Linked DNA regions of Homo sapiens: region 2 is linked to region 1. The links come from fine-mapping of genetic effects on gene expression. Tissue or cell type: whole blood. Region 1 holds a variant in brackets; the other region holds the start of a gene. Each region is shown on its reference strand, or each on the opposite one. Region 1 overlaps ZNF229 (zinc finger protein 229). Region 2 holds the start of TTC9 (tetratricopeptide repeat domain 9).

Region 1 (5,373 bases):
CTGCAGCCCCTGCCAACATTTGACAGCTGCCTCCACAACACTGGGGGAGATACTGCCCAGAATTTGAGGAGTCTGCTGACAACCTCTGGGAATACAGAATGAGTTAAACTTTTCAGCCACAAACTTTGAGGTCTGAGGGGTGTCTGCATTTGTTCTGTTGGCCATAAAACCCTACATCCCAAGTGACTCTGCTGCAGTTCCATAAATTACTTTTCATCCCTACCCCTTGCCCCCTTCTGAAACCTTATTTCCCACGGTAAATACTTTGGTTATCTATATATAAAGTGCCTGTTCCCCACCTCTTGACATGTCTTCTCTCTTTGGCAGCTCCAGGCAGCAGAAGGCTCAGACCAGAGCAGACCCAGGTCTCCTGAGTCACCAAGACAGAGAGCTTATCCTGGAGGAACACATGATGGTGTGCTGCCCTCTACAAAACCAGGCTTGTGGGCTCACTAGTTCAAGAAGGCAGGACTGAAAAATGGAAACACCGTGGCTCCTAATTATCTAGACTGCCTCATCTCCTACCAGCCAGCAAAAATGATGTAGCCTCTGAGAATATTTACATCACTCATTTGTATGCCTTATCTTTGGTACAGGGAGTTGGGTGAACAGGAGAAAAAGCCAAAAAAGTTATAGAGGTTACAACATGAATCTTTAATCATAAGGGATTGTTCCATCAGGCTAATTTATAAAAAATAGCTCTACTGTTATTATAAAACTGAAAGATACTTTGTTACAAAGTAAAATACATAAAAGTACAACATATGTATTATACATTCAGAATCCCACCACTAGAGATAAGTAGTTATATGTCCTCTCCCACATCTTTTTTTCTCTGTTGCTCTAAACATACACACAGAAAAACATACTAACAAAATGGGGTCATGCTATAATTGTTGTTCTAAAACTCTCCTGGTTCACTAAATACTTCATGAGCAACCTGCATTGTCATTATCTGTGTGCCTGAAGATTTCTAGTGGCTTTCCATTGCATACATATGCCTGAACTTATCTAAAAAATTTCCTACCAATGGAAACTGGAATATTAACATTTGCTATTTTAAAAATGTTTTAAATTTAAAAACTCCACCTTCTGCATGCGTTTTTGCCCAAGTGGGCAACTATCTCCCAAGTATCAATTACTACATATTTACTGCCACTTCAAAGGTTATAGAAATTGAATTGATACGTTAATGAATTCTTTTGAAAACAATGCACGGATTTTCTCTCTCACCAATAAGTACATAAGACTTATTACGTCCATTTTTGCACTGCTATAAAGAACTACCTGAGACTAGGTAATTTGCAAAGGAAAGAGGTTTAACTCACACACAGTTCCACATGGCTGGGGAGGCCTCCGAAAACTTAGTCATGGCAGAACGCAAAAGAGAAATAAGGACCTTCTTCACAAGGGGACAGGAGAGAGACAGCGAGGAAGGGCTACACCTTAAAACCATCAGCTCTCATGAGAACTCACTATCATGAGAACAGCAAGGGAGAAATCTGCCCTCGTGATCCAATCATCTCCCACCAAGGCCCTCCTCTGACACGTGGGGATTAAAATTGAGATGAGATTTGGGTGGGGACAAGAGCCAAACCATATCAGACTGTTTCTACAACCCCCCCCCCCGCCCCCACTGATGGGGGATTTGATGATTCTATTTTAATACTGCTAACCTGCAGGGTGAAATAGCATTTGTGATTTTTAAGATACCTAATATTTGATATGTTAAACTATGAAATGAACTGGAGCAAAACCATTATATTCATGACAGCAATAAAACAAATTCCTAGAAATATGCTTAAGATGACTCAGAACCTATTTTTAACCATCTCTAAGAAATATTACTGAGGGACCATATGAAATACTATCAGTGGTAAAAAAAAAGTCATTTTTTTAAAGTGAAAAAAAATCAGCATTTCAAAGACGCCACATTCTTTCAAAATTAACCTATAAATTCAATGCAATGCCAATTAATAAATTTATTTAATTAATAATTCAATGCAATGCCAATCAGATTTTGCTTTTTGAACCTGGAAAGAAGACATATTTCTGTAGTGTACTACAACTCCTCTGAAAGCTGTAAAGCTTACCTGCAAGATAAAACAGTCATAAAAACATGATAAAAATGTGAGACACACACATCACCCAGATCTGCCAAGAGAACTTTGTTCCTGGTCTTCTCAGAGTGACTTGTTTCAATAAATGTTAATGTTATCTTTTTGTTTTTATAAAGCGATCTTTAAAAAGATATGTACCAAACTGGTTTTAGAAAGGTGGAAACTTGTTTCTACACTGTCCCATTGGTAGCTATCAACCCACACAAAGAATCTATGTCCATAATTAGCACCTTGGAAACATTCTCACCACTTGTACATTGTAAAAGCTCCCTCCCAGGCAGATTCTGATGGAAGTGAGGATTATTACTGAAACCACTGCTGCACTGTTTCTTTAAAGCCTACTCCGCTGCACAACAGACTCTTAAAGACTGAAGTTTGTAACTGAAGTGCTAACCTATTTATCACACATCCAGGTGTTCCCTTCCTATGCAGACTAGAAAATGTAAAATCATCAGTTTCTCCTATAGCCCTCCTACATGTCACTTTCCTATGGTTTTTCTCCTGTGTTGGCTCTCAGATGGATAGAAAGCTCTGAGTCCCAGATGGAATCCTCTATGTACATCTACTTATAAGGGTTCTCGCCTAAATGCACTCTTTGGTGGTTCCGCAGACCTGAGGTATAACTGAAGCCTTTCCCACACACACCACACGTATAGGGCTTCTCTCCAGTGTGGACTCTCTGATGAACATGAAGACAGGAGTTGCGGCCAAAGCCCTTCCCACACTCCTCACATTTATAGGGTTTCTCACCAGTGTGGACCCTCTGATGACCTTGAAGATGTGAGCTCTGACTATAGCCCTTCCCACACACGTGGCATCTGTATGGCTTCTCGCCAGTGTGCACTCTCTTATGACTAAGGAGACCTGAGCCATATCTGAAACCCTTCCCACATTCACAACAAGTGTAGGGTTTCTCTCCTGTGTGCAACCTCTGGTGGGTGCGAAGATTAGAGCCATAACTGAATCCCTTGCCACACTGATCACACGTATAGGGCTTTTTTCCCGTGTGGACTCGCTGATGTTTGTGAAGGCTTGATGTGCACCTAAAGCCCTTTC[C/T]GCACTCTTGGCATCTGTAAGGTTTCTCGCCTGTGTGGACTCTCTGGTGAATGAGAAGCCCTGAGCTGTAACTGAAGCCTTTGCCACACTCAGCACATTTATAGGGTTTCTCTCCAGTGTGGACCCTCTGATGGATAAGGAGGTCGGAGCTGTAGATGAAACCCTTCCCACACACGTCACACACGTAGGGCCTCTCTCCCGTGTGGACCCTCTGGTGGCTGTGAAGGTCTGAATTCCGCCGGAAGCCCTTCCCACACTCACTGCATTTATAGGGTTTCTCTCCTGTGTGGACCCTCTGATGGATGTGGAGGTCGGAGCTCCGGCCAAAGCTCTTCCCGCACTCGCATTTGTAGGGTTTCTCTCCTGTGTGCAGTCTCTGATGCATGAGAAGCCCTGAGCTGTAACTGAAACTCTTACCACACACGTTACATTTGTACAGATGCTGCCCCATGTGAACTCTCTGGTGAGCTTGAAGGTACGAGTTGTGACTGAAACCTTTGCCACACTTGTCACACTGGTAGGGCCTCTCGCCGGTGTGTGTCTTCTGATGACTGCTGAGGTGGGAGCTGCAGCTGAATCCCTTTCCACACTCGCCACAGCTGTAGGGCTTTTCTCCAGGGTGAATGTGCTGGTGTTTGTGCAGTGCAGACTTGGCACAGAAGCCTTTGCCACACTCGCTGCAGGTGTAGGGCTTCTCCCCTGTGTGCAGCCTCTGATGGACTTGAAGCACTGAGCTGTAACTGAAGCCCTTCCCACACTCGCTGCATTTATATGGTTTCTCTCCAGTGTGGACCCTCTGATGGACAAGCAGGTTTGAACTTCGACCAAATGCCTTCCCACACTCCTCACATTTATAGGGTCTCCTTCCTGTGTGCACCCCTTGATGAATAAGAAGAACCGATTTATACCTGAACCCCTTTCCACAGACATCACATCTATAGGGCATGTCTCCCACAGGGGCTCTGGGGTGGTTACGTATGTGCGTGTTCTGTCTGACGCCCCGACCACGCTCAAGACTCTTAACAGATTTCTCTCCTGTGGGAACTCTTTGATGTCTGTTAAGATGGGCACTGTGCCTCAAGCCCTCACTAAACTCATCATATTGACAGAGTTTCTCTTTCAAAGGTACTCTTGGATGCGGGGGAAGGTCTGCATCGTCCCTGAAGCCATTTCTGTATTCGTTACTTTTCAAGCCATTCTCTCCAGGGTTAATGCGATGAAGTACAGAGTTTTTAATGCAGTCTTTTCTGCATTTATTGCAACCACACGGCTTGTCTATTTCAGGGAATCTGTGATCAACATGACAAGATATCCAGCAAAAGCTGTCATCATCCCAGTTACATTTATATACTGTGTCTTCTGTGTCGAGATTTTTACATCTTTCTTGAACATCCCCTAACTGGTTCACAAACGCTTTTGCCCAAGATCCTTGAATGGGGATTGGTCTTATAGCTCTCCAGGCTGGAAACTGTTGATTTTCTAGACCGATAAGCCCATCCCCTTGTAGACTGTCCAGGAAATTCTCAATTGGAAAACACGGCGTAGATGCTCCTTCCCACCCTTGATGGGGAGCAGCATCTTCTGAGAACTGGAAGTCTTTTCCTTGCAGATTTACTCTACAGTCTTGGCTCCCAGGTAATTCACCTGCCACCTCTTCCCAGATTTTGCATGAGGAGAGCTCTTTGTGTGAAAAGAACCTTAATTCTTCATCTTGAATATACTCCGTATCCTTTCCATTCTTGTCTCCTATGAGGTTAAAGACAATTCAGAGATGAGAACTAGTAAAAGACTGGCTCAGGGACATCAGACTTTCAGACTTGAACTAATAATAGCCTAGAGAAAAATTAGGCTTTATGTATCATAACTATTAGAGCACTTATGTTTATGACAAGAGGAGGCTCCTATTAATAAGTTTTGAAGCTAAATGCTAGTATGATCCTATTAGTACCAAACTATGTCTCATCATAGAATTGCCAGGCAAAAAAAGAATTTCGGAACAGATTTTTATAGAGAAAGTTCACTTCTTCGCTTAATAATGCTGTTATAACTAATAATATCTGACACTATTGTAACACTTCCTATCTGCCAATGATGTACACATATTAACTGACTTAAACCTCAGAATAATACTGAAGTAGAAACCATTATATTACCTTCATTTTCCAATGATGAAACCAAGTCAGAGAGAGGGTAGGTA
Region 2 (5,373 bases), not on the chromosome of region 1:
TGACAACGGTATATGTGAAAAATGTTCACCTTTATAATTAGAGCTATCTCATTTAATTCTATATACATTTTTAATTTATCAAATTAGAAAATATTTCTTAAGAGCTCACCCTTGACGTTGGCAAGGAGGTGGTGAAACTAGCATATTGCTGGTGGCAGCACAAGTTAGTACAATCTTTCTGAGAAGCAAGTTGACAATGTGTTTCTAGACTTTATTAAAACTTGAAATAATGTTTTGTAAGAAAAAATAAATTAGGAAAAAAATTTAAGTATAAAGATAGTTAAGAGCATAGATTCTGGAGCCAAATTTCTTGGGTTTAAGTCCCAGCTCCACTACTCATTAGCAGTGTAATCTCAGGCAAGTCTCTGTGACTTGGTGTCTAAAATGAGGATAACAATAGCACTGATTTCACTAAGTTATTATGAAGATTCAGTGGATTATTATATGTTAAGTGCTTAACCCAATGCCTGGCACAATGTAAATACTATATGTAAGTGATATCTATTATTTTTATCTCAGTGTTATTTATAATAGCAAAATCTTTCTGACTATAGAAGAATGCTTAAGTACACTATGGTACACTTACAGTGGAATTTTTTTTTTTTTTTTTTTTTTTGAGATAGAGTCTCCCGCTGCGGCCCATGCTAGAGTGCAATGGCACGCTCTTGGCTCACTGCAACCTCTGCCTCCCGGGTTCAAGCGTTTCTCCTGCTCAGCCTCCCAAGTAGCTGGGATTACAGGCAGCCACCACCATGCCCAGCTGGTTTTTGTATTTTTAGTACAGATGGGGTTTCACCATGTTAGCCAGGCTGGTCTTGAACTTCTAGTCTCAGGTAATCCACCCACCTCCGCCTCCCAAAGTGCTGAGATTACAGGCGTGAGCCACTGCACCCGGCCACTTACAATGGAATATTGTACAGAATATTAAAAATTAGGCTTTAAAAGAATATTTAATTACATATAATGTAAAGTAAAAAGCACAGGAAGCAAGCCTGGGGAACATTGCAAGACCCTGTCTCTACAAAAAAAATAATTAACCAGGGGTAGTGGTGTGCACCTATAGTTGCAACTTCTCAGGAGGCTAAAGTAAGAGGTGAGAGGATCCCTTGAGCCCAGGAGTTTGAGGCTGCAGTGAGCAATTATCATGCCACTGCACTGCAGCCTGGGTGACAGAGAAAGACCCTGACTCAAAAATAAAAAAGAAAAGAAAACAACAACAACAACAACAAACAGTAAATGAATTGTGTATATTGTTCCATACCACTTATGTTGGCTAAAAGAGCACTTTTTACAAATATAGATGCCTAGGAAACAACTGGTAGGAATTACATCAAAATATTAACAAAGAATACAACTGGGTGTAGACTGGGGGGTTCTTTATACTTTACTGTATTTTCCAAAGTCTCTACAGCAGTGTTTCTCACACTTTAATAGGTAAACAAATCACCCAGTATGCTCGTTAAAATGCAGCTTCTGGGTTAGTAGGTGTGGGATTTTCAGATTCTGCATTTCTGATAGGTTCTCCTGTGATGCTGATGATATTGGCCCAAGGTCTACATTTTGAGTAGGAAGGTTTTAAAGCAGCATATCTGAACCAATATACTGGTTAACTGAGACCCACCCTCAGAGTTTCTGATTTCTTAAGTCTGGAGTAGGATCCTAGGATTTGCATTTCTAACTGTTTCCCAGGTGATGCTGACACTGCAGGTCTGGGGCCAGCACTCTGACAACCGGTGCTCTAGAATCTTTCTTTTTCTTAACATTAAGGAAGGGAGGGCACTAAAAAATATGTCAGGCTTCTCCATTGACTCCAAAATCAAATCCAAACTCTTCATCCAAAAGCCCCCATAATCCAACCCCGTCATTTCCCACTACTTCTCATTAGGCTATAAAATCAAACCACTATGCCCTAAACACACCTGAGATTTCAAACATCAGGACTTCCGCTGGATTTCCTCACTCCGGCTATGCCACTTCCTTCTACTTCTTCATGCCAAATCCTACCCAGCCTTCAAGGTCCTCAAATGCTATTTCCTCCATAAAGCCTCCTGATCTACCACTACTCAAAAAGCTACCTCTCCCTCCCCCCCTCAGGGCTGCACAGCACTTTTCGTTCCTCCCCAATGACAGGCACCATCTGTACCTGGTCCAGCGACTCTACCGGTGGGTGGTGTATCTTCGCCTGTAGACTGGGAGTTTCTTGAGGTCAGGGGAGTGACTTGCCTATCTTTGCCTCTTAGCCTTAGCAGATCCCCAGTAGACAGCTGACACTCAGAACCGACCAAAAGAAGGAAGGAATGGGACCTCCTGAGGAAGGGCACAGAACTGTCCTGTAAATGGAAACTAGACCGGACGCACGCCAAGCCGATGACCCACAGTAACAGGTGTTCTCCATCTCTGATGTCTGTGATTCATCCTGCACAGCTGCGCGCACACAGCACACGCATACACAGGCTCCCAGAATACGGCGCCCCACACGCTGTACCGCCCGTCGCGTTCTGGACGCCCCGGCGACCACACACACCGAGACACACCTCAGCGACAACCTGGATCCACAAAAAGGAGGCCCTGCCCCCTTAAAAAATACTAACACCTTACTGCAAAGAACTAGCAGCTACGGCTTGCGCCTGCGCCCCTTGTTCCCTGCCGCACCTTTTCTTGTAGTTAAGAAATCTATTTCTGCACGCATTTCGTCGCCGCCGCCCCCCATCCCTACACGCACGCACACACACACACACACACGCACACACACACACTCCCCTTCCCCTACACCTACCCCCCTCCCCCCACCTCCTTTCAGACTAGGCGCGCCTCGCAGAGCGGGATTGAATGGGAAAGAGCGGGGCCGTCTTTGTCATTAATCCTCCCCTCCTTCGGGCAAGCCAAGCTTCTTCCGGGTCAGCGACCATCCCCGCCACCCCACTCGGGGCCACGGTCCCCCCGCAGCGCTAGTCCCGGGCCCGCGAGCACCGGCCCCCGCCACCCGCAGGTTGCGGAGGGAGGAGGGCGGGAGCGGGCGGCGCGGAGCCGGGAGGCGGGGGAGGGGCCGGCGTCCGAGGCGGCGGCGGCGGCGGCTGGAGCAGCCTCTGGCAGCAGCGGGGAGAATGGGAGTGCGGGGCGCCAGACCGCCGCGGGGTGTCACGGCCGCCACGAAGCCTGCGAGGCGCGGGGCCGGCGCCCGCGGCTTTTAAACCCGGGAAGGCGCGGCGGCGGCGGCGGCGGCGGGCAGATCGCGGCGCGCACCAGGCGCCGGGGCGGCGGCCGAATGGAGAGAAAGGGCTCGGCGGCCGGGGCCAAGGGGAACCCGAGCCCGCCCGCGGCCGGAGAGGGGCAGCGGCCACCGCCGCCGCTGTGCGTCCCGGGCGGCGGCGGAGGAGCCCCAGCGAGGGGCCAGGTCGGGGCGGCGGCCGAGCCGGCCGAGCTCATCCGACGAGCGCACGAGTTCAAAAGCCAAGGGGCGCAGTGCTACAAGGACAAGAAATTCCGTGAAGCCATAGGCAAATACCACCGGGCGTTGCTGGAGCTGAAGGGGCTGCTGCCGCCCCCCGGGGAACGGGAGCGGGACTCGCGCCCGGCCTCCCCGGCTGGGGCCCTGAAGCCCGGCCGCCTCTCGGAGGAGCAGAGCAAGACGGTGGAAGCCATCGAGATCGACTGTTACAACAGCCTGGCAGGTGAGCCGCGCCGCGCCCCCCGCGCCGCGGTCCCCGTTCTTCGGCCCGGTCCCTCCGCGGACCACTGCGGCGCTCCCGCGGTGCAGATTCTCCTGCTGTGACTGTGTTGCTCTGGGGAGAACCCGGGAGGGAGGCGCTTTGGAAAAAGTGTGACTTTCAGGATTATGCCTTTCAAAGGCCATAATCATCTCTTGTCCCTTCGCTAGCATACATCGTAAATCTCACCTAGAAATGACTGGAAGGGGACCCAGCTGGCCTGGCTATGGCTGCTGCTGCTACTGCTCACCAGTGGACCTGGGTCCAAAATGCGGAAGCAGCGCCCGGGGTGGGCCCCCGCAGCCACCGCTAGCCCAGCTTTTTCCTGCGGGTGGGTCCCAAGGGAGGCCACGCACCTGTCTGCTCTCCTTAGGTAGCATGAGCACCAGGATTGGTCCTCGCCTTTTCCCCAACTAACCGCATCCCTGTAGGTAAGATCTTCCCCAAGTTTTTTGGCCCCAGTAGCAAAGGGGAGTTTGACACCATGCCTTCAGCATCTTGAGCAAAATGGATTCCAGAATGCCACTTTCTTCTCTCTGAGCTCTGCTGGGGCTCCCGGTTGCCAGGTGAAGATCTCTATCTCAAAAGAAGCTTGGTTCATGGTTGGGCTTGAACTATGCTGCATTCTCCCTCTCCTCCCTGCCCGTTTCTCACTATGTGTAGCATCAGTCCTCACGCCAGCTGGCTGCTAGGGGTGAAGGAAAAGGGGGCCCTACTCTTGGGCAAAGAAGGTGTACATTCCAACATTCCCTTTGGGGATAAGAGCCAAAATCAGGGATTTAAAAATTGTTTAATTTAGGCGCAGGAATATTTAAAGTCTCTTAAAAAAAGAAGAGTCTGGCTCTTGCTAGGGCCTTCCTGGGAGAAGGTGGGAGAGGTTGGCAAAGGCAACTTAAAAAGCATTCTCTCCTCTTCTCTTGCCCCATTTGGTGAGATTCTGGCATGGTCAACCTTCTCCGACCAAACAAAGGGCAGTTCCTCCTAGTTCCTGACATGTGAGGTTGCCTAAACTGTCTATGGACAGTTAGAGCAGGGTAGGGGTGGAAGAGTGACTGGGTGTGGCAGGGAATGGTGAATGTGTCTGAAGCCGAGGCAGTGGTGGGGGAGTAAAAATAAATACTGGCAATTCTGCTCGGTTCTTAAATGCAGATCTCTCTGTTCCCTCTGAGGTTTCTAGTACCAGCCTACCTCTGTCTTCCCAGAATGCCATGCCCAGTCTCATCTTTGATCGGGTAAAACCCAGGCTACGGAGGCACTTTGTAAATTGTAAAGTACTTTACAGACTTAAAGGATTAATAGAGTAGTAGTAGCAGCAGTTGGAGGAGTGGTGGTGCTAATAGCAATACTAGCAGTAATAGTAGCAGATAAAATTGTAGTACAGCAAAAATGGACTCTTTCAATCCATTATAAGATACAGCTTGAGTCCTTTAGTTCCTGTAAGTCTTTGGCATACTGTCTGCTGCCCCATGAATAGTTAAAGGGCAGAGCAGCCATGGGTGGAGGACGAGGCACTGTGGATTGCTAATGCGGTGACTTTGGAGTGGTAATGGAATCTTATATTTAGTCAGTATTATCCATGGACATTCTAGGGCTGCCAACCAGTGGCTAGCACTGCCTGCCCTCCACCCCAGACGTGGTTACTTTTCCATGGTGAAATCAAAGATGT

What was found. PIP is the estimated chance that this variant, and not a neighbour inherited with it, causes the effect.
Region 2: it holds the start of TTC9, and the variant in region 1 is fine-mapped to the expression of TTC9 in whole blood (TOPMed, PIP above 0.99).

Annotation. Positions count from the first base shown.
Region 1 is chr19:44,425,621-44,430,993 of GRCh38, forward strand. ZNF229 (zinc finger protein 229) reads right to left here. Exons shown (of 6, transcript NM_014518.4): 6 at 634-4,922. The coding sequence ends at 2,683. Among named protein-coding and RNA genes, the nearest start is that of ZNF229, 20 kb to the right of the region's middle. The variant C/T (reference allele first, on the strand shown) is at 3,177.
Region 2 is chr14:70,638,865-70,644,237 of GRCh38, forward strand. TTC9 (tetratricopeptide repeat domain 9) reads left to right here and starts at 3,052. Exons shown (of 3, transcript NM_015351.2): 1 at 3,052-3,671. The coding sequence starts at 3,266. TTC9-DT (TTC9 divergent transcript) reads right to left here and starts at 2,434. Exons shown (of 3, transcript NR_110071.1): 1 at 2,144-2,434. RefSeq lists enhancers at 1,947-2,126, 2,227-2,486 and silencers at 2,957-3,106, 3,327-3,516, 3,537-3,606.